Linked DNA regions of Homo sapiens. The protein of the gene in region 3 purifies or fractionates together with the protein of the main gene of each other region. This does not show direct contact. Each region holds a gene or a part of one and is shown on either strand. Other genes may lie near its edges. The genes, in order: EIF4G1, EIF4E, EIF3B and EIF3H.

Region 1 (7,624 bases), on a different chromosome or scaffold from region 3:
GGAGAGAAGGAGTTGAGGGAGCTATGAGTTCCATATCAGACTCCAAAAAGAACATAGGTCAAGACAAGACAAGCCAACTCTGGGCAATGACCAGAAGGAAGTCCCACCTCTGGAAAAGCAATGGAACTGGAGGGTCAGGGTGAGTTAAGTGAGAGGTATAGGGGTCTGTGGCTTCTAGGCTCCAAGCCCCCAGCCTCACCTGTCCAGGGATGTAGTAGGCCCCCTGGGAGGCTGGGTAGGAGATCTGGGAAGGGATCATCATTACTTGGGATCCAGCAGGGTAGACATGGGCAGCTGGGCCAGGGCGGGCAGGGGCTGCACTCTGCACTCGGGAGGCTGCACTGCTCGGGGGCTGGGCCCGGCTAGGGTAGAAGTGCTGTCAGGAGGGAGGAAAGCAGTTGGCATTGTAAAGAGAAGGAAGTGGACAAAAAATTGCCACTCCACAATGTCTCTATAGCCTGGAAAGAAGTACTGTGGGCTTCAGAACATGGCGACCAATCCTTCCAAGACCACTTGACCAAATGGCTAAGCGGCTTCTTGTACACACACATGCCCTCCAAACCTCCAAATTCAGATGTACACTTTGCATCCTGCAGAGATTTACTCTCTCACTGCCATGCATACACACGTCACCTCTACCAAACTACCCCTCTGCAGAGGCTTCCTAACACCGAGATGCATCATGCCTAAGTAAGGCCCTTTCGGGCAACATATCCCCAGCATGCACTGCTCCACCAGCATGTAATGAGGAGCTAACCATAACATGCAACAGCATCCCAGTCCCCAGATGCGCGTTCTTCAAGATGTAGCCCCTAACATGCATCACTCGGCCTCCAACTGAGAACCTGGACACCAAACAAGTCACTACCCTGAAGATCCCCATTCCCTGTGTCTAGCCCCTGACTAGGGTGGAGGGTAAGGATGAGACCAGAAGACTGTCCAGGGTTGGGAAAGGGATATTACCTGCAGAGACCTGAATCCTCCCTGAGAGCACATGGGGATAGGAAAGAAGAGAATTACCCCCAAGGTGATGGCGGGGGGAGGGAATGAAGGCAATAAGACAGGACAAGAATCCTCCCACTTAGTAAGGAAGAAGCTGGGGAACAGAGAAAGGCAAGGACCAGCTGGAGTGTTTACCTCACCACAGTCCAAAGAGAAAGCAGAGAGAGCAATAGAGCAATAGCAGCCTCCGGTAAAAGGAGCAAATAGGAAAGCAAGAGCTGGCAGCAGGGCCCAAAGCACTGCCCCCAATTCTCAGAGGCACTAGGATCCCAGTAATGCCACCCTCATTGACAACATACTATCCAAGGGACCAGCCACCGTGAGTAATCAACAGGGCAAGGCGCAGAGCCGCATGAAAGAACACAGAGGATTAAGGCCAGGTATGGGGCCTCCAGTTTCCATCCTAGACCTAAACTGGCCAAAGCTTTCCACTGCTCCCACCCAGGTCCCCTACTCCCCTCCCCACAGCCCCTCACCTGGCGGGGCTGAGAAGGCGTGTTCATTTGTGTCGCTTGTGGCGTACTGAACACCACCGGCGCTGTCTGCCCCGGGGGAAACGCTGGCTGAAGAGGGGAGACCAGAGTTCAGCAAGAGGGGAAGCCCAGGTGGGGCAGAAACCCAAGCTGGTGAAATAAGGGGAGCAGATCTGCGGCAAGAGCCTTAACAATCCACATACCCCCTCCCCGTGACAGCCCCCGGGGACAGCCCAGGGGCCCTGTCTCAATTTGGCAGCAGGCGGCTGCACTTTGCCCTGACACAGATGGGGGTAGGAAGATCCAGAGGCTGGAGACTGCCTGGTCTCCCCCACCCCCACCCCTGCTAATTCCTCCCTAATTACCTGTGGGAGTCCGGGGGATGGGGCGGGTGGGGGGCCTGTGGACTGTGGAGCTTTGTTCATTTCATTTGGTGCCACATCAGGGTCCCCCCAGCACCTGTTGGGAAAGAGTGGCGCTCAGGAAGAGGAAGGGACCCAAGCTTAAGGCAAATGGGGCGGTGAAAGGGTTGATGCAAGGGCTGGGTCCCATACGGAGTCCCAGAGATGCCAAGAGGGTGAAGCAGAAAAGATACAGCCTGTCCCCACCAACATGCTGTCAAACCCGCATCACTTCCAACCAACCCCTGACCTACTGAAACAGACCCCTCACTCACCCCCTCGATTAAGAACAAGTCCACGGTGCGGCCTACAGGTTCTGGGCATCCGAGGGCCTGGGGTTGGGAGGTGAGGGTATCAACCTGGCTCCGCGGGGCCCCAGACCAACCAGACCGGAAATTCCAGGTCTCGCTGGCACCAGGCTCCCGGATCACGAACGGAGCTAGCTGCTTCGGCCGTGGCGTCCCCACCCCCCACCCGGGGACACCGGGTTCGGGCCTGGCCCAGGGGCACACAGGATACGCCTGCCGCCGGGGAACCCGCACTGGGCCAGAAGCTAGGCCTGCCGCCGCCCAGGAGTGTAGGCCAGGAAGGGCGGGAGTCAGGCCCTAAAAGGCCAGGCGGGCGGCGGCCGTCGAGGAGCCGGTTTCAGGCAAGTGAGGGTCGGCCCGGAGGGCGGGCGGGGCCGGGGGCTCCTCCCTGCCCGCCGCCACCGCCTCCCTCCCCTGCGCCCTCCCTGCGCAGCGCGGGCCAGTGCCAAAGAACAACGTGTCACTTCCCGGCGGCCTGGCCGCGAAGGGGGGAGGGGGCGGCGGGCCGGGAGCCGTGGTGCCTGCGCCCGTGGGCTGCCGGGCCTCCTCGGGTCAGGCCGAGGTGGCATTTCGCGGCGACGAACCCGGCGCCCTACCAGCCCGCGGGGCCCGCATAGTCCGGCCCTGCGCTCCCCACCCCCACCCAGCAGCCAGGCCCGGCCGGGCCAGGCACACGTGGGCCGGGGATCGGGACCCTGGCGGGCCGGGGCCCTGGGTCGGGCCGCGGGGCCAGGGCGCCGGGGCGGCGGCGCAGGGTGGCCGGTCCCGGCCCGGATGGCGGCGGATGCGGGGGGAGGGGGTGGGGGGGCCGGGTCGGGCCCGGACATGGCGGCTTTACCTTCAGTCTCCTTCAGTCCGCGCGGCCGAGCCCCACGCAGCCGCACAGACGTAGTCCACAACCATTTCCGGCTCCCCGCACAGATCCCGCTCGGCGGCCACCGCTTCTCCGCAGGCGCAGCCGGCGCCCCCACGTGACCGGCGCAGGGGGCGGAGCCGCGCCGGGCGATCTGCGCCGCCGAGCACATGGGATTTGCCCCCGCCCCGTCACGTGACAGCCACAGCCCGCCCCCGTGTCCCCTCCCGAACTTTGAAACTCCCAGACCGATTCCCCTCTGTGTTTCTCTCTGTTCCGCGATTCTTTAGTTCATTCATATTTTAAGCAACCATTTATTGAGTGCATGCTAAGTACAAGGCGAAGTGCTGGTTGAGGGCTGAGAAACTGAAATCAAAGTCTCGGCAAAAAAAAAAAAAAAATAAGCGGGGCGCGGTGGCTCACACCTTAATCCCAGTACTTTGGGAGGCCGAGGTGGGCGGATCACGAGGTCAAGAGATCGAGACCATCCTGGCCAACATGGTGAAACCCCGTCTTTACTAAAAATACAAAAATTAGCCGGGCGTGGTGGCGCACCCGTAGTCCCAGCTACTTGGGAGGCTGAGGCAGGAGAATTGTTTGAGCCCGGGAGGCAGAGGTTGCAGTGAGCGGAGATTGTGCCACTGCACTCTAGCCTAGCCTGGCGACAGGGCGAGACTCCATCTCAAAAAAAAAAAAGAAAGAAATTAAAGACTCCGTCCTGCCTAAGTAAATCGTGATACAATACGAATTATGCAGGCTTTGAAAATAATTTAGATTAGGTCATTGAAAGGCCAATAACAAAGGAAATTAAAAGGATAGAAACATTCTAATTAGGCAAGTAGTATGAGATTTGTAGTTTAAAAAGATCATGGGCCGGGCGCAGTGGCTCACGCCTGTAATCCCAGCACTTTGGGAGGCCGAGGCGGGCGGATCACGGGGTCAGGAGATCTAGACCATCCTGGCCAACATGGTGAAACCCCGTCTCTACTAAAATACAAAAAATTAGCTGGGCCTGGTGGCGCACGCCTGTAGTCCTAGCTACTCGGTAGGCAGAGGCAGAGAATTGCTTGAACCCGGGAGGCGGAGGTTGCAGTGAGCCGAAATTACGCCACTGCACTCTAGCCTGGCGACAGGGTGAGACTCCATCTCAAAAAAAAAAAAAAAGAAAGAAAAAAAGAAATTAAAGACTCAGTCCTGCCTAAGTAAATCGTGATACAACACGAATTATGCAGGCTTTGAAAAGAATTTAGATTAGGTCCTTGAAAGGCCTATAACAAAGGAAATTAAAAGGATAGAAACATTCTAACTAGGCAAGTAGTATGAGATTTGTCGTTTAAAAAGTTAGAAACATTCTAACTAGGCAAGTAGTATGAGATTTGTCGTTTAAAAGGATCATGGGCCGGGCGCGGTGGTTCACGCCTGTAATCCCAGCACTTTGGAAGGCCGAGGCGGGCGGATCACGGGGTCAGGGCGGATCACGGGGTCACCATCCTGGCCAACATGGTGAAACCCCCATCTCTACTAAAATACAAAAAATTAGACGGGTCTGGTGGCGTGCGCCTGTAGTCCCAGCCACTCAGGAGGCAGAGGCAGAAAACTGCTTGAACCCGGGAGGCAGAGCTTGCAGTGAGCCAAGATTGCGCCACTGCACTCTAGCCTGGATGACAGTGAGACTCTGTCTCAAAAAATAAAAATAAAAATAAAAAATAAAGGCAGGCACGGTGGCTCACGCCTGTAATTCCAGCACTTTGGGAGGCCAAGGCAGGCAGATCACCTGAAGTCAGGAGTTCGAGAGCACCCTGGCCAACATGGTGAAACCTCATCTCTACTATAAATAGAAAAATCAGCCAGATGTGGTGGCAAGCACCTGTAGTCCCAGCTAGTGGAGAGGCTAAGGCAGGAGAATCGCTTGAACCTGGGAGTTGGAGGCTGCAGTGACCTGAGATCACAACTGCATTCCAGCCTGGGCAACAGAGTGAGACTCTGTTTCAAATAAATAAATAAATAAATGAAATAAAATATAAAAAGAGCAGACACTCCCACGGAGGGGCAAAAGCGTAAGGATGGAAGAATAAGGACAGAAGAGAAGTAATCTTAAAACTGACAGCCGGTCGGGGGCGGTGGCTCACGCCTGTAATCCCAGTATTTTGGGAGGCTGAGGCAGGCGGATCACCTGAGATCGGGAGTTTGAGACCAGCCTGACCAACATAGAGAAACCCCGTCTCTACTAAAAATATACAAAAATTAGCCAGGCATGGTTGCGCATGCCTATAATCGCAGCTACTCAGGAGGCTGAGGCAGGAGAATTGCTTGAACCCGGGAGGTGGAGCTTGCGGTGAGCTGAGATCCTGCCATTGCACTCCAGCCTGGGCAACATGAGCGAAACTCCGTCTCAAAAAAAAAAAGAAAAAGCTGACAGAGGCCAGAAGGGACCATCATCTACAGCCAAATCCACAGGTCAGATTGCTTGAGTTTTCATCCAAACTCTGATACTTATTACCTGGCCAGAATTTGTTAACTTTCCCTACTCAATCAAGTCCCCCAAATATATTGTTGCTTACGTAATAGATAGTGCCTAACCTGAAAATCTGGGATTCATCCTATATTCCTTCTCCATCCACACACTACATCTAATCAGACACCAGGTCTTACTGGTATTTGGATCAAAATCAAGTCCTATTGATCTTATCTTTTAAAAAATAACTATTCTACCCTTCCCTATGTCCCCATTTCAACTGCCTTAGTTCAAGCATTCATTTTCCTTGCCTGCTCTCCTGTCCTCCAGGGTTAGCTTTCTCACCCAGATAGCTGATCATGTCACTTTTCTGCTCTCATTCAGTGGGCCCCATTGAAAGATACTGTCAAATTCTTAGCACAACAAAGCTCTTGTAAACCTAGTCTGAGCCTGAATTTCCAGCTGTATCTCCTACCACCCTTTTCCCTGGCCCCTATACATTTAGCCAAACCAAATTATCTGTAAGTTTCTGAAAACAGCTTTTCCTCCTTCTTGCCTTTGCTACTCCCTTAGCTATATTCTGCCCTCTTTTCCTCTGTACAAACTTATCTTCCTCTAAGGATATAAGCTTCCTCAAAGTCCCCCGATTGCCCCAGGCACTTAGGCCCCATCTCAGTGATACCAGGGTACCTTGTTCACACCCTGGTAAGTATCGATCACAGTTGTTTTCATCATTTCATTAAACTTTTTGAGCATAGGGGTTTTTTTCTGTATTTGCATCCCCATAAATTAGACGAATGTCTGATGCAGAGTAAGGCTCCACTGCTATTCACTGATGAATGAAGAACTAAAGGTGAAAGGTTAAAAGCCACTATGAAACTGTCTTATTCTAAAGCACAATCACCTAAATCACAATTTGGGAGAGAATCATTCTTTTTAGTTTACAAATCACTTTTTATTCTAACATCACCACCACTGGAAATCAGGTAAGGCAACTACTATATCCACATTATATAATAACAGAGGCTCATCACATCACACATGCTAACTTGAAGATTATGGCAGGAACCATAAAGGGGCTCAACAGGGATTCCTTAATCCTGTTTCAACCTTTTTATACAGGCTGCCAAGATGACTCAATCCAAAATTGCTGATGTCTCATGCCTGTAATCCCAGCTACCTGAGAGGCTGATGTGGGAGAATCACTTAAGCCTAGAAGTTCAAGGCTGCAGTGAGCCATGATCATGCCACTGCACTCCAGCCTGGGCCACAAAGTGAGACTTTGTCTCTAAAAAAATTTAGTAATAAAATAACTGGGCCAGGTGTGGTGGCTTACACCTGTAATCCCAGCACTTTGGGAGGCCGAGGCAGGTGGATCACAAGGTCAGATCGAGACCATCCTGGCCAACATGGTGAAACCCCGTCTCTACTAAAAATACAAAAATTAGCAGAGCATGGTGGCGCATGCCTGTAGTCCCAGCTACTCAGGAGGCTGAGGCAGACAGTCTCTTGAACCCCAGACGCAGAGTGAGCCGAGATCACGCCACTGCACTCCAGCCTGGGCAACAGAGCACGACTCTGTCTCAAAATAAATAAATAAATAAATAGCCAGGCATACTGGCTCATGCCTGTGATCCCAGCACTTTGGGAGCTGAGGTGGAAGGATCCCTTGAGGCCAAGAGATTGAGACCAGCGTGGGCAACACAGCAAAACCCCCACCTCCACAAAAATAAAAGTAGGCCAGCTGTGGTGGGTCATGCCTATAGTCCTAGTTACTACTTGGGAGGCTGAGTCAGGAGGATCACTTGAGTCCAGGAGTTTGAGGCTACAGTGAGCTATGACTGTGCCACTGCACTCCAGACTGAGTGATAAGAGTGAGACCATTTCAAAAAAAAAAAAAAAAAGCCAGAAGTGGTGGTACACACCTGTAGCCCTACCTTACCTGCTTGGGAGGCTGAGGGTCAAGCCTTCTTGAATCCACTTTCTACAAGGACATCCTAGAAGTAGATGTTAACATGATCAAATTCCTCATAGCAGCCTCCCAAGAGGGACAGATGGTTGCGGGAGGTAAAGATGTCCTTTTCATTCAGTAGCACGTAAGTCAAGTTAGAAAAGTATGAGGCTGCCCACTC
Region 2 (7,761 bases), on a different chromosome or scaffold from region 3:
AGGCTGAGATGGAAGCATCTCTTGAGCCCAGGAGTTTGAGGCTGCAGTGAGCTATGATCGCGCCACTGCACTCCAGCCCCAGCAACAGAGCAAGATCCTGCACCCCTACACACAAAATCCAACTATTTAAAACTGTCAAAAATAATTCCACATAACTAGCCTGTGCACAAGGGTATATTAAAAGTACTAAAAATTTTCAGGCCAGGCGCGGTGGCTCATGCCTGTAATCCCACCACTTTGGGAGGCCAAGACGGGCGGATCACCTGAGGTCGGGAGTTGAAGACCAGCCTGACCAACATGGAGAAACCCCATCTCTACTAAAAGTACAAAATTAGCCGGGCGTGGTGGCACATGCCTGTAATCCCAGCTACTCGGAAGGCTGAGGCAGGAGAATCGATTGAACCCAGGAGGCGGAGGTTGCGGTGAGCCAAGATCGCGCCATTGCACTCCAGCCTGGGCAACAAGAGTGAAAGTCAGTATCGAAAAAAAAAAAATTCATTTCTCACTAAAACTAAACACTTCGATACTATTTTACATATATTCTCAAAATACTTTAGTTTCCAGCTTCACACACTTTGTTTTTAGGTTCCCCTACTCCCCAAATTTAAACATAACATCCAAATCTCCCAAAGTCTGTACCAGAACAAATACTGTATCACTAACCACATCCCTAGGAATTAAGTTCCTTAAGGGTTTACATTCAACAAGACTCACATCTTGTATAACTTTGTATCCTAAAGAACACTTGGTACAACACCCTGGATATATCAGGAGCTATTAATATTTACTAACTCAAAATATAGTCCTTCATCACTTTGCAGTTCCGCTCTGTGCTGCTGAAACAAAACTGCATAAACTCTGCAAAACTCAAGGGACCTAAATGTGACAGAAACCTCACAGAACTCCTTATTGTTTTATAGTTTACAGTCTCGTAGCCTTGCCCCTATTACCAGATGTAATGCTTTTTACTGACACTAGTGTAGTGGGGTAGGAACAGATCTAGACAAAAGTGGACATCAGAACCTGTCAAGGGGTTTAAAATGTATATTTTACATACTTATTCTTCATTAGTGTTATGTAATATTAATGTCCTAAAGTCAGTTAACTGTAGCAACAACTTATGAGTTTTTCAGTCAATTTAATTCCCAGGAACATAAATGAAAACTGGTGCCAATAAAAAAACAAGTAAGCAAGCAGAGAAGCTGCCTTGAATTTTGACAAGGTAAGGATAGTTTACACCAACGCAATGAAAAATAAGCCTTTGTGTAGTCTATAAGAGTTTTTGAAATAGTTTTATAAAAGTCTTTAAAAGTGCCGGGTGCTGTGGCTCACGCCTGTAATCCCAGCACTTTGGGAGGCTGAGGCGGGAGGATCACTTGAGGTCAGGAGTTTCAGACCAGCCTGGCCAACATGGTGGAACCCCGTCTCTACTAAAAATACAAAAATTAGCCAGGCACGGTTGTGCGCACCTGTAATCCCAGCTACTCAAGAGGCTGAAGCAGGAGAATCGCTTGAACCCGGAGGCGGAGGTTGCAGTGAGCCGAGATCACGCCACTGCACTCCAGCCTGGGCGACAAAGCAAGACTCCATCTCAAAAAAAAAAAAAAAAAAAAAAAAAAAAAAAAGTCTTTAAAAGTCAAAGCAAACTGGTAAACCATTAGCAAAACCACAAGCTACCATGAAAAGATACACAAAAGTATCTGGCAACCAAGGTCTAGAGCTGGTTCCAGAGTGTGAAAGGTTTTCTGATTGCTAATAAACCCCATTATGCACACAAGATATCTTCACTTAGCTGTGTCGTTTCTAAAAAGGCAACAGGGCCCAGAAGTTTCAGTGAGCCAGTCCTGGCAAACCCAAATTATGAAAAATATACCCTCTGCTTAAAGATTAACTACAAACCTACCCTGGGACCAGCTTGCTTCAGTTAAGTTTAAAATGGTGCCTAAATTGAAATGAAAGTCTGTAGCATAGATAAAGAGAAAAAAAAAGTCAAATGGAAAAGTAAATTTAAAAGTTTCTATTTCCAATAAACTGCGTCTCAGAAATCTTCCAGGAGATAAAGACTCGGAAGAACAGAGGGATTGAGACCCATTCGCATTCTCTGAGGCGTGCGCACTACGCGGAAAGGATGAATGAATGGAAGACGGGCGCGTGTGAAATGCAGCAGGTCCGGCCGGCAAGCCGACCGGCTACAGCGATCTGTAGGCCTCGCTCCTCCCCCTTCCCTCCTCCATGACAGCCCAGTCCCAAGCATGGAGGGGCGAGGACAATGTGATACCCCTTCTCACCACCACCATCCCTCATTCTACTTGGAGAGCTTCACCGTGACACACGAGTGTTCCTTCCCACCCCAGACCTTTCTCGCTTCCCCTGGCGCAAACACCGGCAACTCTCCGGCGCGCTGGATTAACAGACGCTCGCCCCTCTCAACTCCCCTAAGCGAGGTCGAAGCTCCTCCGCGCGTGCCGCGGCACCACTCCCGCCTAACCCACCCTCCGGCAACACTCGCCCACCAGCTCCCCAGTCCACCGGTCTAAGGAAGACGTGCGCGCGCCCCGCACCCGAGCCCCGGAGCTGGGGTTCTGCAGGGAGGGAAAGGCTGCTCCAGGGCTCCCTCCTCCATCTCACTCCAGGCCGGCTCGCCGCCCACCCTGCCTGCGGATCCCAGTACTCGCTGGGAGCCGGCCCTGCGCCTTCCTATCATGAAGACACCATCCTCGCATACCCAGCCCAGAACCCCAGCTACCCTCCACCCTGTAGACACCTCGCGGTTCCGCAGGAGGCGCCACGCCGCCCCTCCCCCACACCGCTCCCCCAGTTCTCGGGCCCCCACCAGAAAGTGTGCGCTACACGCCGCCTCGGCCATCCTCCGGGACGTCCCCACTTGTCCGCGGGAGGTCAGGTCCAACATGAAGGGGAAGGGGCGGCAAGGGGTACAGTGCGCGCCGGGAACGCCGTCCCGCGGAGTCCCCCAGTCAGAAGGAAGACGGAGCGCGGGGACCCGTGGGGGTGGGGGCCAAAGGCAATACTCACCGGTTCGACAGTCGCCATCTTAGATCGATCTGATCGCACAACCGCTCCAGAAGGGGGGGTAAGAGGAAAAAAATGAGATTCAAACCGGATTGGCCAGCTTCTGGCCACGTGACGGATATGTCCGTTTGGCCCTGGCGGCACCTGCGCAAGACTGCGGCTGCGTGAGTAACGAGAGGCTTCTGGGAAGTGGAGTCTCTCCCCCACCTTTTTTTTTTTTTTTTTTTTAAGGTAAAGAAATTTTTTTTAAAAAGGACTGGTCACGTGGCCGATGGGTAGGGTGCGCGGTTCTCAACGCGGCGGACACTCGCTTGCTGGAGGGTGGTTTCAGTCCTCTGCTCTTCCGCCTGGATAGCTGCGGTCACACTTACTGCCAGGCAAGCCTACTGTGCCCTTTGTCGCCCTGTCCTCCCATCTTCCCCGGAAGGTTGGGAACTGCAGGCTCAGCACACACAATAAGGCTTCATTTGCTTAGTTGAGGTCCCAGGACAAGTTGCCTGTGTGTTTATTTAGTTTTCTTTTGATCTCCCACCATTTTCTCTTAGTTTCAAAAAGAGGCGGCGATGCAGAGTCGTTTAGGCAATCAACCCTCCCACGTCCCCTGGCTCAGCTAATGCTGGTGGTCATTCGTTGCCATTTCTGCGAAAGGGGACGGACGGAACCGCCCGCAGTACCCGCTTGCCACCGGCTGGACGAGGGGGAGGGACGACAGCTTTTACTGTCCCAAATCCTGAGATTAAGACCTCAGGGCTAAATCTTGCGTGGCGGTAAAAATTATTTGGAAGTTCTGTGCAACCGTTCCAATATTCCGCTTTTACGTGCACGGAAATAGCCTAAGTCCAGATGCCAGCCAGGGAAGCCACTCCGGGCCCCGCTGACTAAGCCCTGGACTGATGGTCTGGAGTCTTTAGGCCGGGTCAACTATGACTCTTGACGTTGACTCATTCTCCTTAGGCGAGTGACTTAATCGCTCGGCGTCTCAGCTTTTTTATTTATGAACCAAAGGTGATGATACACTTACCTCACAAGGGTGTGCTTCGTAATGACTGTAACCGGCTTTGAAAATGCATCGGACTCTAGAAATGATTCATAATAAGCAACTGCGTGCCTTCCTAAAGATCAAGTGCTTCTGCTTTTTTTTTTTAGCAAAGTTTAAATTTTTTTCTGTTTACTTTGTTTGATTATGATGTACACCAGTGTAGTTTTAAATGTTCAGGACCATTTTTTTTCCTTTACAACTGCAGCTGCCCTCAATAGAGGCTTTAATGTTCATGAAATTATTGTTATGCTCACAACAATCACTGGCAATCAGAAATTTGTCCCCACACTGGCATCCTACATTTCCTTTCCCTCTAAGATACTGTGCTGTCATTTCTCAAGACCGTGTTTTTTGCACAGTTTGGCTACTAATAACAACAAATAGAGATGAAGAAATCTAGTAGACTCCTAAGGTTCTAATGAAGAAGACACTGTCTCATTACTATTTCCCATGCTTTTAAATAATGTTGACACCAGGAAAAGGAGTGTATGCAGGCTGCCTGTGCCTGTCTGCTTATAGTGTTAATGAGGTCCAGAGCTGTGTCATACCTATTATTGAGTACATAATGGATGCTTGAGTTGACTAACACATAATTGAGGCTGTATGAGAACTCAAAGCCATTGCCTGTTCATATGTTTTGGTTTACCTGAATATCAGAAGTGATTAATGAAAGCTTTTGTCTAGTGGGCTTAGCTCTACTAGGTTTTAAAGTAGATAGAATTAACAGGCCAGGCGCAGTGGCCCACGCCTGTAATCACAGCCCTTTGGGAGGCCAAGGCGGGCGGATCACCTGAGGTCAGGAGTTCGAGACCAGCCTGACCAACATGGTGAAACCCTGTCTCTACTAAAAATACAAAAATTAGCCAGGCATAGTGGCACCTGCCTGTAGTCTCAGCTACTCAGGAGGCTGAGGCAGGAGAATCACTTGAACCTGGGAGGTGGAGGTTGCAGTGAGCCAAGATCCCGCCACTGCACTCCAGTCTGGGCGACACAGTGAGACTCCATTTCCAAAAAAAAAAAAAAAATGATAATAAACGGATAAGTGGATTTCTACTTACAGAGACTATCTACTGTTACTTAGACTATCCAAAATAATTCTGTTGACCGCGTTGTTATTTTCTGCTGGTTAGAAGTGGTGTCAGGTTACCTTCTTTGAAGAGAAAAAGACAGCATAGATGTCCTATTTTCCCCTTCCCCACCCTTCCCCACCCTTCCTCTCCCTTCCCTACCCTTCCCCTCCCTTCCCTTCCCTTCTCTTCCCCTCCCCTCCCCTGTCCTCCCCTCCCCTCCCTCCCCTCCCCTCCCATTCTCTCTCTCTCTCTCTCTTCCTTCCTTCCTTCCTTCCTTCCTTCCTTCCTTCCTTTCTTTTTGTCTTTTCAGGGTGTTGCTCTGTTACCCAGGCTGGAGTGCAGTGGCATGATTATGGCTCACTGCAGCCTTGACCTTCTGGGTTCAAGGGGTCCTCCCACCTTAGCTTCCCAAGTAGCTAGGACTACAGGCATGGGCCACCATGCCTAGCTAATTTTTTTATATTTTGCAGAGACAGGAGCGTCTAGCTATGTTCCCCAGGCTGGTCTCAAACTCCTGGGCTCAAGCGGTCCCCCTACCTGGGCCTCCCAAAGTGCTGAGATTGCAGGCATGAGCCACCATTCCTGGCCAGATGTCCTATTTTCATGAAGCTGTTATATAACAGCAAAAAATCAATGAGATTGGCAAGAAAATACCTATAGGACTGAAAGCCAGTGATGTTCTTAAAACTTTTTTTAAACAACAGTTTCCATTTTTATTAAATTTTCTGTTAATCAAAAAACTCGGGCCGGGCACGGTGGCTCATGCCTGTAATCCCAGCACTTTGGGAGGCCAAGACGGGCGGATCACGAGGTCAGGAGATCGAGACCATCCTGGCTAACACGGTGAAACCCCGTCTCTACTAAAAATACAAAAATTAGCTGGGCATGGTGGCAGGCGCCTGTAGTCCCAGCTACGCGGCAGGCTGAGGCAGGAGAAAGGAGTGAACCCAGGAGGTGGAGCTTGCAGTGAGCGGACATCGCGCCACTGCACTCCCTCAGTCTCAAAAAAAAAAAAAAAAAAAAAACTCCCTCTTGTCAACCAAGACTCATACTTTTACAATACTTATGGATGCTCTATTCTTTATGGTTTAGTTTCTTTCCATTTTTTACATAGTTTTCAACAATTTTTCTTTATAATTTTCAAGCACAGAGTTTCAGGAAAATCTCCATTTTTGTATATACTTTGTTGTGTGTGTTTTATGACCATTAATGTGTCTTTGCCTATTTGAGATTCTACCATTTCAAAGATTTAACGATTAGGTTTTTATGTATGTGTGTATGTGGTTGTTTTGTTTTGTTTTTGCCAATCCTAAATATATAGAGCTGAAATTTTATGTTTTATTTCTCTATTTATTCTCTATTATTCTTTATTGCTCTTCAAAGGACTTGTAATTCCAAGTTCATTTACAGAACTGACCAGAAACCATCCAACAAGTACTAAGTTAGTAATGGGAACTATGTAACCAGTGGAGGATATTTAAAGGACACAGGAAGTACAGGCACTTCCTTCCCCGACTGTAAAATCTGGTTGGCGTACTAAGTCATAGAAATATAAATAGTTCAGTACCCATATAAAGAGGTGTGACTAAGAACCAAGAGGATGCAGTTAACAAGCACCATAACCAGCACACATTCACATAATGAATGAGCGAATCATATACTTCCTTCCCTCATTTCATCCAGGCCTCTGTTCCAATGTGATCTCCTGAAGGAAGGCTTCCTTGACCACCCTATCTAAATTACTGTTTCCATTACTCTTTATCCCCTCACTCTGCTTTGGTTTTCTTTAGGCCACTTCATAACCCTAACTCTAAACTTGCTGTTAAACATTATTTAATTAGTTGTTGATTGACCCTACTACTAAAATATTAGCTCATTGATGATTTGTAGATAGATTGCTATCAAATATTTGGGGAAAACTCAAATGTAATTTTTTTTTCCCGAGATGCAGTCTCACTCTGTTGCCCAGATCTTGGCTCACTGCAACCTCTGCTTCCTGGGTTCAAGCGATCCTCCTGCCTCAGCCTCCCAAATAGCTGGGACTACAGGTGCGTGCCACCACACCTGGCTAACTTTTGTATTTTTAGTAGAGATGGCCAGCCTGGTCTCGAACTCCTGACTTCGTGATCTGCCCGCCTCGGCCTGCCAAAGTGCTGGGATTACAGGCCTGAGCCACTGTGAACCCTTATTTTAATTTTACAGTTTGAGAGACACCAATTCCCATTACCTACTCAGGACATTGCTTAAAAACATGGGATGTACGCAAACATGACCAAGGAATTTTGAATATTAAAAGATTGGAGCAGAATTGGAATTTAAAAAATTATTTTATTATTCTAGTTAGTTTTTTGTTTACTCTCTCCTTGGTGATTTTTATGAGACTGAGGCACTACCTACTGGCTAAAAAGGCACCTTGATTTTTAAAAGAAAATCAAGAAAAAGAAAAAGAAAAAAATTTTTTAAGGGAAACCTCTTCTGCTATTCTAATATATCCGTGTGCCAACATTTTATGCTTTTACAATTATAGGGTGCAAAGAGTTTTTGTTTGTTTGTTTAGAGACAGGGTATTCCTATACTACTAGGCTGGAGTGCAGTGGCACAATCCTGGCTTACTGCAGCCTC
Region 3 (7,170 bases):
CAGATATTTTTTCCTGAGCCATTTGGGAGTGAGTTGAAATAACATGTCCCTTTAGCCCTGAATGTGTATTCCTAGAAATAGGATTTTGTTAGTGTGACCATAGTGTGGGTACTGACTTCAGGGATTTACCATTCATTTAATACTTCAATGTATTGCCATATTCTGATTTTGTTACTTGACCTAATAATGTTCTGTATAATACTTACTTTCCTTCAGTTCAGGATCTAGTCTAAGGTCACGTATTTTACAGATAATAAATTGTCCTTCCTCTATCACCCAGGCTTGGCGCCACCCAGTGGCACCATTGCAGGCTCATTGCAACCCCAGCCTCCCAGGTCAAGCGGTTCTCCCACCTCAGCCTTCCTGAGTAGCGGGGACCGCAGGCACACGCCATGACATATGGCTAATTTTATTTTTTGTAGAGATGGGGGTCTCACTTTGTTGTACAAGGTAGTCTTGAACCCCTGGGCTCAAGTGATCTCCTGCCTTGACCTCCCAGAGTGCTGGGATTACAGGCGTGAGCCACCGCACCTGGCCGAGCCGTGATTTTTGATCTAGCTAATCCGGCTGTCGGAGGCCTGCTAGGGAAAGGGGCGGTTGTGGGAGGCAGTGTGAGGCGAGCTGGGGCCACTCTAGGGAAAGGGACAGTTGTGGAAGGCAGTGTGAGGCGAACGGGGGCCACTCTAGGGAAAGGGGCAGTTGTGGAAGGCAGTGCGAGGCGAGCTGGGGCCGCTCTGTTTTCGCCCTCATGGGTTGTGTCTGCCTTCCCCTCTGGTGTTGTAAGGGACCGTCTGTTACACACTTTGTGTGAACTGAGTAAGCAGGTGCAGTAGCTCCAGACAAGCCAGCAGTCAGGTAAATCATGGCTGGGAGGAGCCCCCAGGCTCTGAAGTTTCTATCAGACCTGTGCTGGCTTTCGAACTGGATGGGACTTGTTTTTTTGTTTGTTTGTTTGTTTGTTTGTTTTGTTTTTTTTTTTTTTGAAACTGAGTTTCATGCGTCGCCCAGACTGGAATGTAGTGGCACGATACCAGTTCACTGCAACCTCCACCTCCCGGGTTCAAGCTATTCTCCTGCCTCAGCCTCCTGAGTAGCTGGGATTACAAGTGCCTGCCACCACGCCCGGCTAATTTTTGTATTTTTAGTAGAGACAGGGTCTCACCATGTCGGCCATGGTTGGCCAAGCTTGTCTTAAACTCCGGACCTTGGGTGATCCACCCACCTCGGCCTCCCAAAGTGCTGGGATTACAGGTGTGAGCCACTGCGCCCAGCCGTATTTTTTTAACTTGTTAGTCTTTATTAAACATGGGTAAAGATAGAGTTCCACACTGCGCCACCCTCTGGATCACTTAGCAGCCTTGTGTGGGATCGGTGAGATCTTCTGTGCTGATCTTGGAGAAACCGGAGCGCCTGCAGCGTATTGACACCAGAATGAACAAGCGCCGCTGCTTCCCGCTTCCGCTTGGGTCTCTTGGGGCCGGGCAGTGTGGGGTTTGGGGAGAGAGCTGGTTCCGCGAGTTCTGACGGCGTGTTCTGGCCGCACAGACAGACTGTGATCCTCTCGTGAGAGGAGGATAGTGTACAGTGTTGCCCTTCTCTTCTAGGTACCTGGTGACCTTTAGCCCCCTGATGGACACGCAGGATGACCCTCAGGCCATAATCATCTGGGACATCCTTACGGGGCACAAGAAGAGGGGTTTTCACTGTGAGAGCTCAGCCCATTGGCCTATTTTTAAGTAAGTGGACCATTGTAACGAGCTCTGTAGCCTTTGTCTTTTCATGGGAATACCCTGGCACTTTTGTTTTTCTTAGGTGGAGCCATGATGGCAAATTCTTTGCCAGAATGACCCTGGATACGCTTAGCATCTATGAAACTCCTGTAAGTGGCCTCAGTGATGGCAAACGCCCCGTCCGGTCCTTGCTTGTAACCGGGGTGTGGTGCCTTTCCTTATTTGTGCTAGAAGAGGAGGAGGAGGTTTCACAGATGCATAGGAAAGGCCTGTCTCCTGTGCCTTTTTAACTGCCCCTGCTCTGGGCAGAGCTCTTCAGTCACTCCTGCCCACCTGGCGCAGCCGTGGGAAGTCCTGGATGGGAGTTAATGCAGTGGGCTTCAGAACTGCAGTTCTGGGTGGCGGGTGGGTGGATGGGTTCACTGTCACGCTCTGTGTGCACTGCCCCCTAGGCAAACTCACATCAGACTCTTGTTTCCTTTTGTAAAAAGTTAGGTGTGTTTCTGAGACACTGACATGATTTGACTCAACTGCAGCCTTCCTTTTTTTTGGGCAGTCTATGGGTCTTTTGGACAAGAAGAGTTTGAAGATCTCTGGGATAAAGTGAGTATTCTTATCAGTTTGGTGTCTTAGTGTGTTCAGGCTGCTTAACACAATACCAAAAAAAAAAAAAAAAACACAATACCATAGGCTGGGTGGCTTATGACAGCTGAGATTTCTTTCTCCCAGTTCTGGAGCTTGGGAGCTTGAGGTCAGGGTGCCTGCAGACTGTCTGGTGACGGCCCACCTCCCTCCTAGTGGACAGCCCCTCGGTCCAGCCTTCCCTGGAGGAAGGCCTCCGTGGCCTGTTCTGTAAAGTCTCTCATCTCATTCCCAAGGGCTTCCCCCTCAGGACCTCCCACCCCCCAAAAGGCCCCACCCCATGCCGTCACCCCAGGGGGTTAGAATTTCACCCTGTGAATCTGGGGGACACAGACGTGGTCCATTGCAGTTGGTTTCCTTTATTTGCTGTCTCTCCTTTAGCACTCAGCTTTTTGTTGTTGTTGTTAGAGACAGAGTCTCGCTCCGTCAGGCTGGAGTGCAGTGATACGATCTTGGCTCGCTGCAACCTCCACCTCCTGGGTTCAAGTGATTCTTCTGCCTCAACCTCCCGAGTAGCTGGGACTACAGGCATGTGCCACCAAGCCCGGCTAATTTTTGTATTTTTAGTAGGGATGGGGTTTCACCATGTTGGCTGGGCTGGTCTCAAACTCCTGACCTTGTGATCTGCCCGCCTCAGCCTCCCAAAGTGCTGAGATTACAGGCGTGAGCCACCATGCCCAGCCTGTCACTCAGTTCTTAACCAGTTGGAGAGAAAACGGTGAGTTTGTTCTTTTTTTAAAATTTTTTTTTTTTTTTTTTTTTTTTTTTTTTTTTTGAGGCAGAGTCTTACTCTGTCTTGCAGGCTGGTGTAGAGTGGCGAGATCTTGGCTCACTGCAATTTCCACCTCCTGGGTTCAAGTGATTCTCCTTGCCTTAGACTCCCAAGTAGCTGGGACTGCAGGTGCCTGCCACCATGCCTAGCTAATTTTTGTATTTTTAGTAGAGATGGGGTTTCACTGTGTTGGCCATGCTGGTCTCAGAACTCCTGACCTCAAGTGATCTGCCCACCTCAGCCTCCCAAAGTGCTGGGATTACTGGCGTGAGCCACCACACCCAGCCATTTTTAAATCTTTTTTGAGACAGAGTCTTACTCTGTTGCCCAGGCTGGAGTACAGTGGCGTGATCTCGGCTGACTGCAGCCTTCACCTCCCAGGTTCAAACGATTCTGGTGCTTCAGTCTCCTGAGTAGCTGGAATTACAGGCGCGCAACCACTACGCCCAGCTAATTTTTTGTATATTTTAGAAGAGTCGGGGTTTCACCATGTTGGCCAGGCTGGTCTCGAACTCCTGACCTCAAGTGATCCGCCTGCCCGCCTCAGCCTCTCAAAGTGCAGGGATTACAGGTGTGAGCCACCGCGCCCGGCCTAAGGTGAGTTTGTTCTGGACACAAGGATGGAGGCTTGAGTCAGTGGGCAGCAAGGCTGCTCAGCATTGGGCCCGCCACCCTTGAGGCACCACTTCAGTGACCCCTTCCCGTGCCTAGAAATGAATTTTCAAGGCCAGAGCCTTGAGTCGGCTTCCTTCCATCTACCTCGTCTTTGATCTAGAAACTGAGGAGGGTGGGGTTTCCAGCCTTTTAAGGAAAAGAGGGGACTCTGCTTAGGTGAAAGGTTTTCCTGGTACTCTTCCATCCGAGGCAGGGTTTGGGGAGCCTTCGGCTCATTTTCACCAGCAAAGAATGGGCACGTTTTTATTTATCGCAAAACTTGGGACTGGTCAGTATCACGGCAGTGAACTTCCAACAATCCAAGGACATTGACGTTTCTTCTTTCGTTTTTACATTCTTGGGCAAAATTATGGCTTATAAAATGAAAAGACCAGGACGTTGGTTCTCAAAAAATGCAAAACAGCACATAGCGTGTATAAAGATGTTTTTCATGTAGGTGAGCTCAGGAGCCGTTCGTTACAGCAGCTCTTCTGTAGAGTAGTTGATAAAGTGGAGGGAGCTGCCCTTGTTCTTGCTCATTCCTTACACTTGATTTGCCATTTTCCCCATTTGCACCTTAATTAATCTTTAGATGACATGTAGCCAGATCCGTCAGCCTAAAACTTATTTGCCTCAAAGCAGCAGTGTGCGGTGTCTTAAGAGTGGGCTGACGGAGCCCAGGCTGGAGTCCATATGAGTCTGTGCGTGATGGTGGGGTTGCTAATATTCTGTCTGCATTCACTCCTTGTCACAGTGAGCACAGTAGTGCCACAGGGTCCTGGCGAGGACCTATGAAGCTGCGCGGCATGCCCAGAGCAGTGGCTGTGCAGAGGGAGCGCTCAGCGTCAGCTGTGACAGCATTGAGCTTCTATATAGCAAATGAGTTGTTCTATTCTCTTCTGCTTTTCAGTTTCGTCATCACTTGGTCTTTGCTTTAACATTTTATTTTCCTGTTCTGCAGAGACTTTTCTTGGTCTCCTGGTGGTAACATAATCGCCTTCTGGGTGCCTGAAGACAAAGATATTCCAGCCAGGGTAACCCTGATGCAGCTCCCTACCAGGCAAGAGATCCGAGTGAGGAACCTGTTCAATGTGGTGGACTGCAAGCTCCATTGGCAGAAGAACGGAGACTACTTGTGTGTGAAAGTAGATAGGACTCCGAAAGGCACCCAGGTATGTAGATTCCCACAGGAACTGACGATTCCTTATCCTGAGCTCTGAAGTGGCCACCGTATTGTTTGGAGGGTGTTAATGGATTTTTTTTTTTTTTTTTTTTTTTTTTTTTTGAGATGGAGTCTCACTCTGTCACCAGGCTGTAGTGCAGGAGTGCGATTTCGGCTCACTGCAGTCTCTGCCTCCTGGTTTCAAATGATTCTTCTGCCTCAGCTTCCCAAGTAGCTGGGACTATAGGCGTCCACCACCACGCTTGGCTAATTTTTGTATTTTTATTAGAGACAGGGTTTCACCATGTTGGCCAGGCTGGTCTTGAACTCCTGACCTTAGGTGATCTGCCCGCCTTGGCCACCCAAAGGGCTGGGATTACAGGCGTGAGCCACCGTGCCTGGCTGAGAATATTATTTTCTTTCTAAGCACAAGGAGTAGTATACTCAAGATTTATTTTTTTATTTTTTTATTTTTGGTGGTTGATCATTTAATATTTATTTTATCAAAAAATTGCCTGAGTTGGCTGGGTGTAGTGGCCCATGCCTGTAATCCCAGCACTTTGGGAGGCCGAGGTGGGCGGATCATGAGGTCAAGAGATTGAGACCATTCTGGCCAACGTGGTGTGAAACCCCATCTCTACTAAAAGTACAATAATTAGCTGGGCGTGGTGGGAGGCTCCTGTAGTCCCAGCTACTCGGGAGGCTGAGGCAGGAGAATCGCTTGAACCCAGGAGGCAGAGCTTGCAGTGAACAGAGCGAGATTGCGCCACTGCACCCCAGCCTGGCGACAGAGCCAGACTGCGTCTCACAAAAAAAAAGAAATTCCTGAGTTTTCCCTCTAATAGAAGTATTCTTCTTTCTTTTATGTTAAGAAAGCTTTAATTGACATGTAGTTCACATGCCTGAAAACACCCCTTTAGAGTGGTGAACTGGTTCAGTGGTTTTTCGTGTGTTCAGAGTTATGCAGCCACCACCACTCATTTCAGAACGTTTTCATCGGCTGGGTGCGGTGGCTCCCCCGGGGTGGGAGGGAGGATAGCTTGAGGCTAGGAGTTTCAGACCAGCCTGGGAAACACAGTGAGACCCCATCTCCACAGATAATTTTTAAAAGATAGGAAAAAGGCCGGGCACGGTGGCTCACGCCTGTAATCCCAGCACTTTGGGAGGCTGAGGCGGGGCATCACAAGGTCAGGAGATCGAGGGTTTAGTAGAAACCCCGTCTCTACTAAAAATGCAAAAAATTAGCCAGGCGTGGTGGCGGGTGCCTGTAGTCCCAGCTACTCGGGAGGCTGAGGCAGGAGAATGGCGTGAACCCGGGAGGCGGAGCTTGCAGTGAGCCGAGATTGCACCACTGCACTCCAGCCTGGGCAACAGAGTGAGACTCCGTCTCAAAAATAAATAAATAAATAAATGTTTTTGTCACCCTACAAAGAAACAACATACCTGTTAGCAGCCTCTCCGCCCAGCTCCTGGCATCACGAATGTCTATGATTTCCCTATTCTGAACACACAGCTGGAATCGGATACTATGCCACCTTCTGTGTTTGACCTCCTTCACGGAGCACAGCGTTCCCACAGCTGGTCCACGGTGCTGAGTGTCAGCAGTAATCTCTTGTTGGGTGGACCCCGTTTCTTGGCCTCCTTCCTCTGTTGATGGACATCAGGGCAGTTTTCCCTCAGACTCCTCGAGTAGGGCAGGACTTCTTGAAGGTTATGGCTACAGGACACCCCACTGTCTGAAGTGGTTTACCCAGCCCCATTGGTGTGCCTTTAGGGCCCTCAGGACCCTGGCCTGCAGCCTGCAGTGTGGACCCTGGGACTGCTTGTGCCCAAGTGTGGCGGGCAGGGCGGCTCCTGGAGGTGGGATCTGGGTCAGAGTTACTTCATGCATGTCCAGTGGCTTCCAGTAGACGTGGTGCCGGCAGTTCTCCAGCCTTAGAACCGTCTTCCATCCTGAGGGCTGTGGCTTTCATCACTGCACATGCTCGTGTGTGAACCAGGCATGCACACTGAATCTTTCATTGTGACGTTGATCTTTGATTTAAACCTTTTCTCATATTTTCACTGTCCAGAATGTCACCCCTTCCCCCTTTTTTTTAAACAGGGTGTTGTCACAAATTTTGAAATTTTCCGAATGAGGGAGAAACAGGTACCTGTGGATGTGGTCGAGATGAAAGGCAAGTTGTATTTTAGTCACTTTGAGGCGAATG
Region 4 (7,170 bases), on a different chromosome or scaffold from region 3:
TCTACTAAAAATACAAAAATTAGCAGGGCATGGTGGCACACAGCTACTCGGGAGGCTGAGGGGCACGAGAATCGCTTGAACCTAGGAGGTGGAGATCACAGTGAGCCAAGATCGGGCCACTGCACCCCAGCCCGGTCGACAGAGCAAGACTCTGTCTCAAAGGAAAAAAAAAAAAGGAAAAGTCAGATGGACTTAGAATTACCACCCAATGCAGGTAAACTAACTTACTTAGGGACACGTACCAGTACTCTTCCCAATGCTCCTTAATATGCTGATTTTCTTTACTATTGATCCCCAGTATCTTAATATGTGAACTCAGCAGTTTAAGGTTGCATTTTTCCAAACTTCAGAATATTTACTAAATTGACTTCTTATAGCTACAAATCTTCTACAATATGACTGATTATCAAACGTAAAGATTCTAATGTATGTTTTCTCATACATTTTAAAGTTAGAAGTCTGTAAGACACCTGAGTTCTGAAAAACATATTTCCCAATGCTCAAACAAGAAGCACTAGATTAACTATTCTGTACACACCTTAACTTCTATTTCCTCCATCTGTACATTAATCAAATCACATAAACTATTTGTACCCACGTCTCCCCATTGATAAAATAGGGATAATGATGGTTCCTATATCAAAGAGTTGTTGTATTGCTTCAATGCCATAATAAATACACAATACTTAAAACAGTACCTGTCACATAACACAGAATAACTACTGGGGTCTTCAAGTATATGAAGCTGCTATAAAATGTAAAAGAAAATGAGTCAAGGATGGCTAGATGTGATCTGAATTCAAGCTCCAGGATATATTCACTTTATGTCTTTGAAAAGCCACCCAGCTTCTTGGAGTGGGAGAATCACATGTATAATCCAGATAATACTAGTCCGCCCAGTTCCTGGAGCTACCAAGATATAATAATGTACGCTAAATGATTTTTCTATTATAAAAAGTTACTATTTGTAAGCAATAACATCTTACTTGCCTAAGCAAAAAATATAACTAAGCAATCAAAATGTCAGACTGCATAACGAATTTAATCCTCACTCACAAATACTCAGGTTAGAGATAATCCTGCATAACTGGTTTTTCACTCACAGCAAAAAAAAACCTGAAAAGCAAGGGGATAAGAAACAGATAAATTTAACAACCAAAAAAGGCACCAACTAGAAACATAAACCACTCAAGGCACCTAAAGTTCAACAACAGGGGACATTTATTATAGAAATAACAGACTACCCGAAGGGATTTCTTGACAGATCTACTGTCCTGTCTGGTTCAATAACATGTTTTTTTGTTTTTTTGTTTTTTTTGAGACAGAGTCTCTGCCTGTCGTCCAGGTTGGAGTGCAGTGGTGTGATCTCGGCTCACTGCAACCTCTGCCTCCCAGGTTCAAGCAGTTCTCCTGCCTCAGCCTCCTGAGTAACTGGGATTACAGGCATCCGCCATCATGCCCGGCTAATTTCTTTTGTATTTTTAGTAGAGATGGGGTTTCGCCATGTTGGCCAGGTTGGTCTCGAACTCCTGACCTCAGGTGATCCGCCCACCTCAGCCTGCCAAAGTGCTGGGATTACAGGCGGGAGCACGGCCCAATAACATGTTCTTAATGATAATACTATGCCATCAAAACATGGTTAGATTGTGTTCCATGTTCTCTGACTAAAGCAGCAGAAAATTATGTATTACACTTCAGAAACACATATAATTAAAATAGCTAAAATGTGCAAGTTTTGGTGCTTGAAAGGATTTCAAATTATCTGACTGAAAAAATTATCTCACATGTCAAACAACTTACGTATGCACCACTCAAGTCAGAAAACTGGAAGAAGAGGCCAAGGGTCATATAATTTTTTTTGTTGTTAAAACATTAAAAGGCCAAACTGTATTATACTTCAGACCAGGATCTCAGAGAAGAGCTTCCATTTCAATGGAATTTAAACAAGCTGTTGTCCAGTCTCTTTAAATTCATAAGAGTATCACAAAAAATCTACAGTGACACATGTGATAGCCTGGCATTACAAATTCGAAGTATTTGATTCAACTCACAAAGCATTCCCACCAGCCTGCTGCGGTGGCTCACACCTGTAATCCCAACATTTTGGGAGGCCAAGGTGGGTGGGTCACCTGAGACCAGGAGTTCGAGACCATCCTGACCAACATGGTGAAACCCCGTCTCTACTATAAATACAAAAAATTAGCCAGGCGTGGTGGCGCATGCCTGTAATCCCAGCTACTTGGGAGGCTGAGACACGAGAATCGCTTGAACCTGGGAGGCGGAGGTTGCAGTGAGCCAAGATCCACTTGAACCTGGGAGGCAGAGGTTGCAGTGGGCCAAGATCATGCCATTGCACTCCAGCCTGGGCAACAAGAGCAAAACTCTGTCTCAAAAACAAAAAAAAAAACAAAAACAAAACAAAACAAAATAAAAAACAAAGTACTTCCACCAAAATTTTTCCATTAGATTTGAATAACCATCAGGTAGGTAAGGTAGTGATAACATTTATCCCCAAAGCTGTTGTGAGGATCACAACATCTAAAATTTAACAAAAAATTTAACCAAACAACACAAAATTTAACCAAACATCCCTGTACAGGGTCTTATAATAGGTGTCCAATTAATATTAGTGATTTTTCAAACAGATAAGAAATCAACAAATAAAAAGATGGAGAAATATGAACAAGCCCAGAAAGCTAACTAGCTTATCCTCAACTGTGTGCTCTTTTCTCACCAACACTCAAGCATTTACTAACCCAGTTTCTTCATGATTGATTTTCAAGAAAATTTCCACACAACAGGAGTATATTCATTCATTCACAACATCTGAGTGCCTTCTATACACGAGGTACTGTTCTAGACCCTTAGAAATACTGTAGTGAACAAACCTGACATGGGTGCCACTTTCAGGAAGCTGATATTCTAGTGTGAAGAAATAAGCAACAAGTAAAAAGAGTTTCAGACAGAAACAAGGACCAAACTGGATACCAAAATTCGCAGATGCTCAAGTCCTTTATATAAAATGGTGTAGCATTAGTTATTGCATATAACCTAGGCACATCTTCCTATATATCATCCCTAGATTGCATATAACATTTAATACAATGTAAATGCTATGTAAATAATTATTATACTGTATTGGTTTTTATTTGTATTTTTAGTTGTTTTTTTCCTAGTATTTTCGATCCATGGTTGGTTGAATCCATGGATGTGAGATTGCTGGATTCAGAATCCAAAGATATAGAGAGCTGACTGTATATGTAACTCATACTTTTCTATTTATTAATAACATACTCTACCTTACTTACAAAACCAGGGGAATAAGGTATCTAATAAGATAACTTAAAGGGGAAAACAAAATTTAAAAGGTAAGAAATTTCAATAGCAATGGGTTTCAAGCACTGAATTATGGAGGAGACAAATGTTTTATACTTCAGCCTTCAAAAGGGTTATCATCTCAATGAGAAGGGGAAAATATATTAACAGTAAATCACTAACAGTATGGATCACATACCAAGGTGAATGATACAAGCTGTCATTAAAAAGCTCAGAGAAAGGAAGAGAGCAAGCTTCTTCTCAAACAGTAAAATGCTATAAATCACCTGATTGTGTAGGTCAGGAGAGGGGCCTGAGATTCTGTGATACGTATGTCTGCATTTCTAACAAACTCAAGTGTAGCCAACATTGCTCATCTTACTGGACATGGATCATACTTTGAATAGCAAGGTCTAATGAACATAAGAAAGGTAAAATTCAAATGTTCTAGGGAACAAAGTGGGTTCAACATGAAAAGTTTAACGGGAAGAATTAGCTTGATCTTGTCTAGGAACAATGAGACCACCTGACAGAATGAAGACCCATTCTTTCTTTATTTTTGTTTTTTTTCTTTTAACTCATCTGTATTTGTTACAACTTTAAGCAGAATGTGACTCAGGCACTACATTTCCATCCACAAGACTAGCTCTGAGTTATTTTTGAACAGCTTTACGACATGCTTAGGTAGGCTTATAACTTTGCTCCTCCAAATGATACTTTTCTTTGGAAAACAAGCCCTGTGGAGGGCTTACTTTTCTTTGGAAAACAAGCCCTGTGGAGGGACTGCTACATTACAGATACAGAGGAAGTGATGAAACAGGTCTAAAGGTAGGAAAGGAAGGGTTCAAAAATACAAGAAAAATTGGTCTTGGCCACTATCAATGTGCCAGGAAGGAACAAATGTGTTAAAACATCAGGCTAAACATAGGATGAGATTAATCTCTGGGTTCATCTACATCTATATATGACTGAGAATGGTCATGAGAGTCGGGACTGGGTTCTACCTTGCTCACCTATATAATATCTTATATAGGTTACTGCAATATACCCCAGCATGTAGCAGGGCTAGACCTGGCATGTGGTCGGCAATCAATAAATATTTGTTAAATGAATGAAGAACAGAATACATCTGGAGTATACAGATTCAAGTTAAACTATATGGAGAATTTTTAAAAAAACAGAGTAAGTCGATTAAGTCACATTTTTTATTCAATATGTGATGATGAAAGAGAACAATTTCAAAGAGAAAGAACTTCATGAACAAAAGCAAGGTCATGCTTACTGCTTTGAATAAGGATGTGACTCTAGGTCTGTCTTTAGCATGACTTTTTTTTTTTTTTTTTTTTTTCTGAGACGGAGTCTCGCTCTGTCGCCCAATCTGGAGTGCAGTGGTGCAATCTCGGCTCACTGCAAGCTCCGCCTCCCCGGTTCATGCCATTCCCCTGCCTCAGCCTCCTGAGTAGCTGGGACTACAGGCACCCGCCACCACGCCCGACTAATTTTTTGTATTTTTAGTAGAGACAGGGTTTCACCATGTTAGCCAGGACGGTCTTGATCTCCTGACCTCGTGTGATCTGCCTGCCTTGGCCTCCCAAAGTGCTGGGATTACAGGCGTGAGCCACCACACCTGGCCTTTAGCATGACTTATTAAAGAAAAAACTAAGTAGTCTGAGGGGCTGGAATGTACAGTTCCTACAAAGCTTGGAAAGAAAGGAAATAAACCTGAACATAAATGCAAGAAACAAGGACAACATTTTGGTCCTTCAATTCAATGGAAAGTCACTGAAAACATCTAAGGAAAGAAGTTAAAATCTGAATGTTCACGTTAAATAAACGTTTTAATAAAAGTATGAGGCCGGGCACGGTGGCTCACGCCTGTAATCCCAGCACTTTGGGAGGCCGAGGCGGGCGGATCACGAGGTCAGGAGATCGAGACCATCCCGGCTAAAACGGTGAAACCCCGTCTCTACTAAAAATACAAAAAATTAGCCGGGCGTAGTGGCAGGCGCCTGTAGTCCCAGCTACTTGGGAGGCTGAGGCAGGAGAATGGCGTGAACCCGGGAGGCGGAGCTTGCAGTGAGCCGAGATTGCGCCACTGCACTCCAGCCTGGGCGACAGAGCGAGACTCCGTCTCAAAAAAAAAATAAAATAAAATAAAATAAAATAAAATAAAAGTATGAATGGTAGACTGAAGAAGGCAGGGGAAAACAATATTAAAATAACCTGCATAAGATATTAGAACATAAATTAGTATAAATAATAAAATGGAATACATACTCATTCATTTATCCTACTTTGTGAATTAACAGGTTCAGCACTGGAGATAAAACAGGTGAAAAAGCATAGTCCCTGCCCTCAGTAGCATACATTCTGATGAGGAAAACAAAGAAGAAAACAAACAAGATAGTTACAGGCTGTGGAAAATTCTAGAAATATAGGGTGCTGTGATGGAAAGTAAGGAGAAGAACAAGTCTATAATTCTATTTTGTACATGTTAAATATGAGATGCCTATGAGATATCCAAATAGTGACGTCAAACAGGCAATGGGTATTCAAAAGAGGCATTCAAGAGCCATTACTGGCAGAAATATAAATCTAGGACTTATTAGAATATAAATATTTAAAGCCGTGAGCACAGATAAGAATACCTTAAAGAATACTACTATAATTACTGCAAATAAAGCAGCAGCAAAGCTTAAATGGTGACTTATTCTGTCCCAGACATTGTTCTAGTTATTGACATATATTCAATCCATTTAAAGTCTCAAAACAATTCAGATGAGGAAAATGAGGCACAAAGACTTGCCCAATGTCATGCAGCAAATTTCAGAGCTGGGATTCAAATCCAAGCAGTCTGGCTCCAGAGCATGTACTTTTATCAACTTCGTTACACTACCTATGTCAAGCAGAGACTAAAAGAAAAGCCAAAACCTAAACCATGAGGCACTCCAATATGCACAGATGGAGAAGAAACATAAAAGGAAAGGAGTAAGTGGCCTAAAAGGAAGGATAGTGATTGACTGGGGTCACACACCAATAAGAACCCTCAGGATTCAGGTATGAAAGCAAAAGAAAGAAACCATAAACCATGAAAATTGATAGGGATAGTGGCAATCATTTTGTGGATGAGAAAATGTACCTTTGGAGTAAAACAATCATAGAAGTGTTGTTAGTTACTGGTGGATGCAGACTGGAATGCATGTCTCCTGATTACCAGGAGCACTGAAGTGCTCTTTCTACAATTCCAATCTACATTAGCAAAGTTAGCATTCGAAATGATTTGAGAAACATTAATAAGGATGAGAGTGGTAAAGACACAGTAATCTGAGTGTTTACGATGACACAGGTACTATACTAAACACTTTAAATACCTCGGAATTTCATTCTCACAACCCTTATGAGTTACTACTTTATCATCATCCCCATTTTACAAAGGATACACCTGAGGCCTAGAAAATTTAATAACTTCCCCAAGGTCATGCTTACTGCTGGAATAAGGATCTGAATCCAAGTCTGTCGTCAAGATTCTCTTGGCTAGTATGTAATATTGCTTTCCTAAGAGTAACACTGTTCATCAAGACAGAAATGAAGAAAGAAAGAAAGAAAGAAAGAAAGAAAGAAAGAAAGAAAGAAAGAAAGAAAGAAAGAAAGAAAGAAGAGAAAGAAAGAAAGAAAGAGGGAGGGAGGGAGGGAGGGAGGGAGGGAGGGAGGGAGGGAGGGAAGGAAGGAAGGAAGGAAGGAAGGAAGGAAGGAAAGAGAGAGAGAAAAGAAAAGAAAAAAGAGAGAGAGAAGAGAAGAGTTTAAGGAAGGAGTTTTTTTTAAATTGTATCTGGGCAAACGTGGGTATACCTATCA

Evidence for each region.
Region 1: the proteins of EIF3B (region 3) and EIF4G1 purify together in Homo sapiens (affinity purification with western blotting; 7 studies listed by BioGRID and IntAct, with this or other methods). This does not show direct contact.
Region 2: the proteins of EIF3B (region 3) and EIF4E purify together in Homo sapiens (affinity purification with western blotting; 5 studies listed by BioGRID and IntAct, with this or other methods). This does not show direct contact.
Region 4: the proteins of EIF3B (region 3) and EIF3H purify together in Homo sapiens (affinity purification with mass spectrometry; 12 studies listed by BioGRID and IntAct, with this or other methods). This does not show direct contact.

What each region holds. Positions count from the first base shown.
Region 1 is NC_000003.12:184,310,073-184,317,696, reverse strand, and holds the start of EIF4G1 (eukaryotic translation initiation factor 4 gamma 1), read right to left. Parts: upstream 3,092-7,624; 5' UTR 3,023-3,091; intron 2,534-3,022; exon of another isoform or gene 2,209-2,533; 5' UTR 2,152-2,208; intron 1,935-2,151; 5' UTR 1,901-1,934; coding exon 1,841-1,900; intron 1,626-1,840; exon of another isoform or gene 1,566-1,625; coding exon 1,479-1,565; intron 985-1,478; coding exon of another isoform or gene 964-984; intron 377-963; coding exon 200-376; intron 1-199.
Region 2 is NC_000004.12:98,926,062-98,933,822, forward strand, and holds the start of EIF4E (eukaryotic translation initiation factor 4E), read right to left. Parts: upstream 3,073-7,761; 5' UTR 3,052-3,072; coding exon 3,034-3,051; exon of another isoform or gene 2,912-3,033; coding exon of another isoform or gene 2,834-2,911; intron 1-2,833. UniProt on the Homo sapiens protein: Acts in the cytoplasm to initiate and regulate protein synthesis and is required in the nucleus for export of a subset of mRNAs from the nucleus to the cytoplasm which promotes processes such as RNA capping, processing and splicing.
Region 3 is NC_000007.14:2,364,713-2,371,882, forward strand, and holds part of EIF3B (eukaryotic translation initiation factor 3 subunit B), read left to right. Parts: intron 1-1,604; coding exon 1,605-1,736; intron 1,737-1,812; coding exon 1,813-1,879; intron 1,880-2,221; coding exon of another isoform or gene 2,222-2,245; exon of another isoform or gene 2,246-2,260; intron 2,261-2,286; coding exon 2,287-2,333; intron 2,334-4,759; coding exon 4,760-4,970; intron 4,971-7,064; coding exon 7,065-7,137; intron 7,138-7,170.
Region 4 is NC_000008.11:116,745,763-116,752,932, forward strand, and holds part of EIF3H (eukaryotic translation initiation factor 3 subunit H), read right to left. Parts: intron 1,365-7,170; exon of another isoform or gene 1-1,364.